Linked DNA regions of Homo sapiens. The protein of the gene in region 1 purifies or fractionates together with the protein of each later gene. This does not show direct contact. Each region holds a gene or a part of one and is shown on either strand. Other genes may lie near its edges.

Region 1 (3,576 bases):
AAGCCCAACCTGTGCTCACAGCCCATGTTTTCATTTCAAACTCTAGTGATTCAAATAAGTAAATAAAATAAAACAAGTAATCAATAAGTAAATAAAATAAGTAATCAATAAGTAAATAAAATAAGTAAATCAATAAGTAAATAAAGTAAAACAAGCCCTTGAGTCCTAAGGCTGACATATGTTCTTTCAGTTCATAAATTGGTTTTGCTTAATCCACATTCCTATTATGACTTATTCCTTGTTATGATTTGGCCAAGATGGCAGCTTTCAGGGACCCATTTCCACCACCGGTGTCTTCCAGAAGGCCACAGCCACTGTGGCAGGTGCCGAACTCACCTGGAATCCAGGAATATCAGCTTCAGGTCAAGGCTGGCCCTGAACATGAACATGTTACTGTACAGCTTGATCTCGGTGATGGCACTGGGTGGCAGCGACTGGCCCACGGCCACCAGCCCCACAATCTGGTAGCAGGAGTCGTACAGGGACATGTCCAGCATATACTGCCTGATCTTCAAGTAGCCACTGCAGTGGATGACCTGGGAGTGGAGAGGGCAGGGTCAGCCACTGGCCACTGGGGTTGGGCTGGAGCCCACTCCTCCTGGCTCATTTTCTCAAACATGCTAGAATATCTCCCAGCCCAGCCTCTACTCCACTGTGCGGCCCAATGTGCTGACAGGCACCGGTTCATTGCTTAGGAGAAGTGGAGAGCTGTGCTTCTTAGGAAACAACATAACAGCTGGAAGCAGTGGCTCAGTCTTGCCATCTCAGCACTTTGGGAGGCCGAGGTCGGGGGATTGCTTGAGTCCAGGAGTTCGAGACCAGCCTTGGTGACATGGCGAAACCCCTTCTCTACAAAAAATACAAAAATTATCCGGGCATGGTGGTGCATGCCTATAGTCTCCAGCTACTTGGGAGGCTGAGGTGGGAGGATCACTTGAGCCCTGGAGGCGGGGGTTGCAGTGAGCCGAGATTGTGCCACTGCACTCCAGCCAGGGTAACAAAACAAACTCACAAGACAACAAAAAATATCATAATAAAATATAAGGGTTGTCTTATCCAATTGACTGTACTGTAAGTAACTACAAATTAGGGCCCTGTCATATATGATGGAGATATACATATGAGCTCACTGCCAAGCTGTGAGTAGGTAACACAATAAAGGCATCTGGGGGAGGCCAACCATTTGTTCCACAGTGCTTGCATCACTGACGATGCTGCTTACCACCTTCCAATGGGATTGAACTTGGCATCTGTATCACTCGACACGCTGTACCAGTAAATAAACAATTCTTTCCGTAGATTTTTTTTTAGACAAGGTCTCACTGTCATTCAGGCTGGAGTGCAGTAGTGCAATCAGGCTCACTGCAGCCTTGACCTCCCAGGCTCAAGTGATCCTCCCACCTTAGCCTCCTGAGTAGCTGGGACCACAGGCATGTGCCACCGTGCCTGGCTAATTTTTTAAAAAATTTTTTGTAGAGACAAGGTCTCATTATGTTGCCCAGACTGGTCTCGAACCCCTGGGCTCAAGCAATCCTCCCACATTAGCCTTCCAAAGTACTGGAATTACAGGCATGAATCACTGTGCCCTGCCCCAGTACAATTTTTTGAAGTCTTCATTTTTAATGTATTTTTATTTCCTTTATTTATAATTCAAGATTTTATTTCCTCATAATAATAAGCCAGAGTGGCCCTACAGAAGCCCTTCCAATTGCTATAGCCAAAAGCCATACAGACAAGAATGCAGTGTTTCGGTGTCAAACAGAAACATCTGTACAGCCTCGAGCGTCACTACTGGAAGCATTTATTCAAGCTGCAGTCTGTGAAATCTTGACAGGGTCAATATCATCATGACAACAGTGAAGAATCTTAGCCTTAAGTTCTCTGTTCCAAAACTCTTTCTCCAGGATTTCTGAATGCATTCATCATCTTTAGGGCTAAAACAAATCTTAAAATCCTTCCAGTCTATTCTCCCATTTTACTAATGAGGAAACCAAGAACAAGATGGTGTTGTGTATTGCTTAAGATTGGACAGCGGACAGTTAATAAGTGGCAAAAAAAAGTCAAGACCCAAGTCCCATCCAGGCGCGGTGGCTCCTGTCTGTAATCCTGACACTTTGGGAGGCCAAGGCAGGAGGATTGACTGAGGCTAGGGACTCAAGACCAGCCTGGAAACACAGCAAGACCCCATCTCCACAAAAAATTTTAAAAATTAGCTGGGTGTGGTGGCGTGCGCCTGTGGCCCCAGCTACACAGATGGCTGAGGTGGGAGGATCATTTGAGCCCAGGAGTTTGAGGCTCCAGTGAGCTGTGATTGCACCACTGGACTCCAGCCTGGGTGACAGAGCAAGACCCTGTCCCTTAACAAAAAGACCCAAGTGCCCTGAAGAATGTCTGTTGGCTCCTGGGGCCCCACCGTGGCCCAAAGAGGCTTAGTATCTGGGACAAAAAGGAAGAAACATGTCCCCCGAACTGTAACAGCACAGTGAGATATAGGTCAAAGGAGGAGCTCAGAGTGGGGTCAAAGAGGGGAGCTGGGGCGGGGCCTTCCAGAAAGAGAGGACAAAGGCACAAAAGTGCCCTTTCCTCTCACCCCATCCTCCTCCCTTCTTTTCTAAGAGACAAATCCTCCTGGAAGAAAGTTTCTGGCAGCTTTCAGCCTCATATTGATGGGTTATGATGTCTGTCCTCTGAGGTTGGAGAGATGGCAGTGAAGATGCCTGGGAGGAGGGTAAGGAGCCCAGAGAGGGGACAAAAGTGTTGGCGGGGGGCACTCAGCACAGACTTCCCCCGACCCACTTTTCCCTGGGGGGCGGCTGACTCTCGTGCCCTGAGACATGACCTACTCCTCCATTCTGGAATTAACAAGAACAAGCGGTGGTGTCTGGCAGAGACGTGGAGCCAGGGAGGAGCATGGGCTGGGCTCAGAGTCCCAGCTCCGCCACCAAGCCCCTTCTGCCGTCCCTCCTCTGGTCCTTGACTAGAAAACTGGGCCAGTGCTGCTCATTCCAATGGGCAGCTGAGATGCTTGAGGGAGTGGCCCAGGTGTGGTGCCGCAGATGAAAGCTCTGCCTTGGACCTTGGAAAGGGCGCTAGCATTATTGTGGTGCACACCGTCATCGGCGGCAGGGAACTTGGTGGAGCATCCCAAGGGGAAGGGCAGTGTCCGTGCTCTGGATACCACTGCCAGCTGCACTGTGCCCAGGAGGATGGGCCTCTATAAACTCCAGAGGCGGTGGCTCCACTGGGACTGGTCCACATGGAAAGTGCCAAGGTATTAATAAAATCTGCCCTAAGCCACACTGATTCCGGGTCTTATGCGATGAATTCCAGCCAGCTGGAACATCCTCCTAAAACACCAGCTCTCACATGAGCCTCCAAGAGACTGTGCACCACGTTGCTGGAGAGCTCTACATTAGTGGGGATGACGAGTTTGTGCTCCCGTGCCTTCCTTTCTGCAGACGCTCTTGAAAACACACATTGAAGACCCTTAGCCAGCTCCTCCCCGCACCCATGACTCCCCGTACCTTGTATCCGCTGCAGGTCAGGCCCGCGTTCCTTTTCGCCAAGACACATTTC
Region 2 (3,576 bases), on another chromosome or scaffold:
TGTCCTATAAAGCAAAGCTGACTGGTCAATCCACTCAGCTGTCGGTGGTGGTGGGACGAGCAGGTTTCAGACACACAGTAGACAAACCCATCAATACGGTCCCACACTCAAGAGAATGGGAGAAAAATATTTTTGTATTAAAAAAAAAAAAAAGACCGGGCATGGTGGCTCACACCTGTAATCTCAGCACTTTAGGAGGCCGAGGCAGGCAGATCACCTAAGGTTGACAGTTCGAGACCAGCCTGACCAACATGGAGAAACCCCGTCTCTACCAAAAATACAAAATTAGCCAGGCGTGGTGTTGTATGCCTGTAACCCCAGCTACTCCGGAGGCTGAGGCAGGAGAATCGCTTGAACCTGGGAGGCAGAGGTTGCGGTGAGCCGAGACTGCACCATTGCAACAGGAGCCTGAGCAACAGGAGTGAAATTCTGTCTCAAAAAAAAAAAAAAAAAAAACTAGAGAACTGAAGACTGCATCTTGTGAGAAAAAACAGGCAGATGAAAACAAGTTAAAAAAAAATACAGAGCTAATTTGGAAAAAAGATATCCAAAAATATTTCTATTTTATGTCTTCACAGAGATCTGAGAAGACACTATATCCATATAACCAGAATAAAATATGAAAATAGAACAATTAGGCCAAAAAGAAAGAACACAAGAATTTAAAATACAGTAGCTAAAATTAAACTTCAATAAAGAGGCTGGAAGATAAAGTCAAAGAAATCAAGGTAGAAACACAGATCAATTCAGGCAATCAATTTGGCATTCCAGAAATTATGACAGTAATAAGATAATTTTCCAGAGCCAAAGGAAAATATGCCTCCAGATTGAAAAGTCCCACCAAGAGCTAAGCAGAATGAATGAAAGACTCATGAAATTTTATGACACTGGGTGTTTTTAAAAAGGTCCTGAAAGTTCCAAGGAGGAGAAAAAGCTTACTCACAAAGAGATGGAATAGACTTCCAGAATCAATTACACAGAGTGTAAGAAGATATCCCTTTCAATCCTAACAAGGGAAAATTATTTTTAAGCTAGAATTCTACATACACCCAAACTGAGAAATAAGTGAAAAGTTAAAATAAATGCATTTTAAGATATACAACAATTCTACATTATATATCACTTTGAGAAAAACAAAATGAGGATGAAAACTGAAAAAGAGGAATATCCAACTCAAGTCCAAAAACTGCATTTAATCTATAAACGCAGGAAGAAAATACCAGGAGTGTAGCTATACAGCAGAACAGGAAATAACCAGTCTAGAGTGGAGTTCAGGCAGAAAGAGATTTCTAGACAATACTCAGTATTAATGAATCTGGGTAATTCTGAGGTTATGATGAAGTATACTATTTTTGATAACAAGATAAAAAAGAAGGGCAGCAAGAACCCTCAGGAAAACAAAAAAGATTTAAGAGATTCCTGATCCAAAGGATGTCAGTGAAAATGGTGGTTACTACAGGCCTCCAAAAAGCTCTCCTCCATAAAAGCAACCAAAAAGTTGGCAAAAATTGTCAGTATCAACTTCTTATGGATTTTGGAAACTAACCAAAGGTTTGCAGGAACCCAGGGAGCATTAATTCAAGGAAAACAACCACATCTCAGTAAGAACAGTGAGCTCTGTGATATTTTAATTTGGCCTAGACCCATCCCCACTCTCCAGGCTCTCAGCAGGCCGCATTCCTGGTACAGCGTAGCAGCCATCGCTGGAGAAAACAGTGCTCTTAGAGCTCTTTCAAAGCTTCATTCTCAAAGAACTGTCATCATTTGACCTGTCTGATGGTTCCCTGTAAGACCTCATTTGCAAGACTGACTGACTGTTTCTGGCTAAACTCAGAAAAGCCTTCCTCCCAACCCAGGAGTGTCTGTTGAAAATACGGCAAGTGTTTTAACTTTGCAGCCTCCTGAGGTGGCAGATAACAACTGAGGCAAACCAAAGGCAAAGGTGGGAAATAAAATGTCCGTGGGGGCTTTGAAAAGCTTTGACATTTTCCCAGGAATCTAGAAAGACACATGAATGTACAGAGCTTCACTGCACACTCAGGAAAAACCTAAGAAGGCCTTAAGCTCTCACCTCTGGCTGACTTTGACTCAACATCAGCAGGAAATAAAGGCTAAGGCAGTTTTTAACTGTTAGGCCAAGCAATGAAGGTATGCTCCAACAGGTAGATGAAGCCCCTCGACAAAAACAGGTGTTTACTGATCCCAGGAGTTTAAGGAAATCGCCATCTAATAATTACTTGGCCACTAAGTTCACCAAGTACAGATTTCACTGGTCAGACACAATAAAGAATACAAACTTTACAGAATTAGTTCAGAAAAGTCATTAAACAAGAACAACTATATCACGTACCAATAGCAACCATGGGAAGAAAGGAGCATCTGATTTCCTGAGTCACCCCATTGTGTTATTTAAAAATCCATTTCTCAATAACAGCAAAAAAAAAAAAATTAGACAAAGAAACAACAAAGTATGGCCCATACATAGGAAAAAGAAAGCAATCAATAAAATCTGTCCCTGAGGAAGCCCACATATGAAGAACTTAGCAGAAAACAGTCTCTAAATCACCTATTTTAAATATGCTCAAAGAGCTAAGAAAACTATGCAAAAATTACTAAAGGAAAGTATGGGAATAACGTCTTTTAAGTAGAGAATATCAATAAATATCAGTATCACTATTGATACTGATAACGAGATAGAAATTATTATTACCATTTTTTTAAGAATCAAATACAAATTCTGGAGTTCAAAAGTAAAAGGGGGAAAAGATAAGCGTTCATGAAAGGGGCTCAAAACCACTTTTTAGCATTTAGAAGAAAGAACAAGCAAACTTGAAGACAGGTCAATTGAGATTACCCAAACTGCGAAACAGGAGGAAAAAACAGTGAAGAAAAATAAACAGAGTCACAGAACCTGAGGGACACTATTAAGCATACCAACATACAGAAGAGAAAAGAAGAAAGAATATTTGAAAGAATAATGGCTAAAAACTTTCCAAATTTGACATGAAAAAAATTACACCCAAGAAGCTCAATGAATTCCAAGTAAAATAAACTAAAAGGGAGCCAGCCTCACCTAGATGTCATAATCAAACTGTCAAAAAAGCCAAGTCAATAATGAAGGAACAGAACAAAAACAAGGAATAAAATCTTCAGAACTTACTATAAAGCTACAGTAATCAAAACAGTGTGGTACTGGCATAAGGACAGGCATCTATACAGATCAATGGAACAGAATTAAAAGTCTAAAAACAGCCAGGCACAGTGGCTCACGCCTGTAATCCCAGCACTTTGGGAGGCCGAGGTGGGTGGATCACGAGGTCAGAAGATCAAGACCATCCTGGCTAACATGGTGAAACCCCGTCTCTACTAAAAATACAAAAAAAATTATCCGGGTGTGGTGGCGGGTGCCTGTAGTCCCAGCTACTTGGGAGGCTGAGGCAGGAGAATGGTGTGAACCCAGGAGGTGGAGCTTGCAGTGAGTGGAGATCCTGCCACTGCACTCCAGCCTGGGGGACAGAGCAAGACTCTGTCTCAAAAAAAAAAAAGTCTAGTAACAGGCCAGGCATGGTGGCTCAC

The links. The genes of interacting proteins can lie anywhere in the genome.
Region 2: the proteins of SIM2 (region 1) and NUDCD3 purify together in Homo sapiens (affinity purification with a luminescence readout; one large-scale study listed by IntAct). This does not show direct contact.

Annotation. Positions count from the first base shown.
Region 1 is NC_000021.9:36,723,079-36,726,654, reverse strand, and holds part of SIM2 (single-minded homolog 2 long isoform), read right to left. Parts: coding exon 3,525-3,576; intron 537-3,524; coding exon 337-536; intron 1-336. UniProt on the Homo sapiens protein: Transcription factor that may be a master gene of CNS development in cooperation with Arnt. It may have pleiotropic effects in the tissues expressed during development.
Region 2 is NC_000007.14:44,407,131-44,410,706, forward strand, and holds part of NUDCD3 (nudC domain-containing protein 3), read right to left. Parts: intron 1-3,576.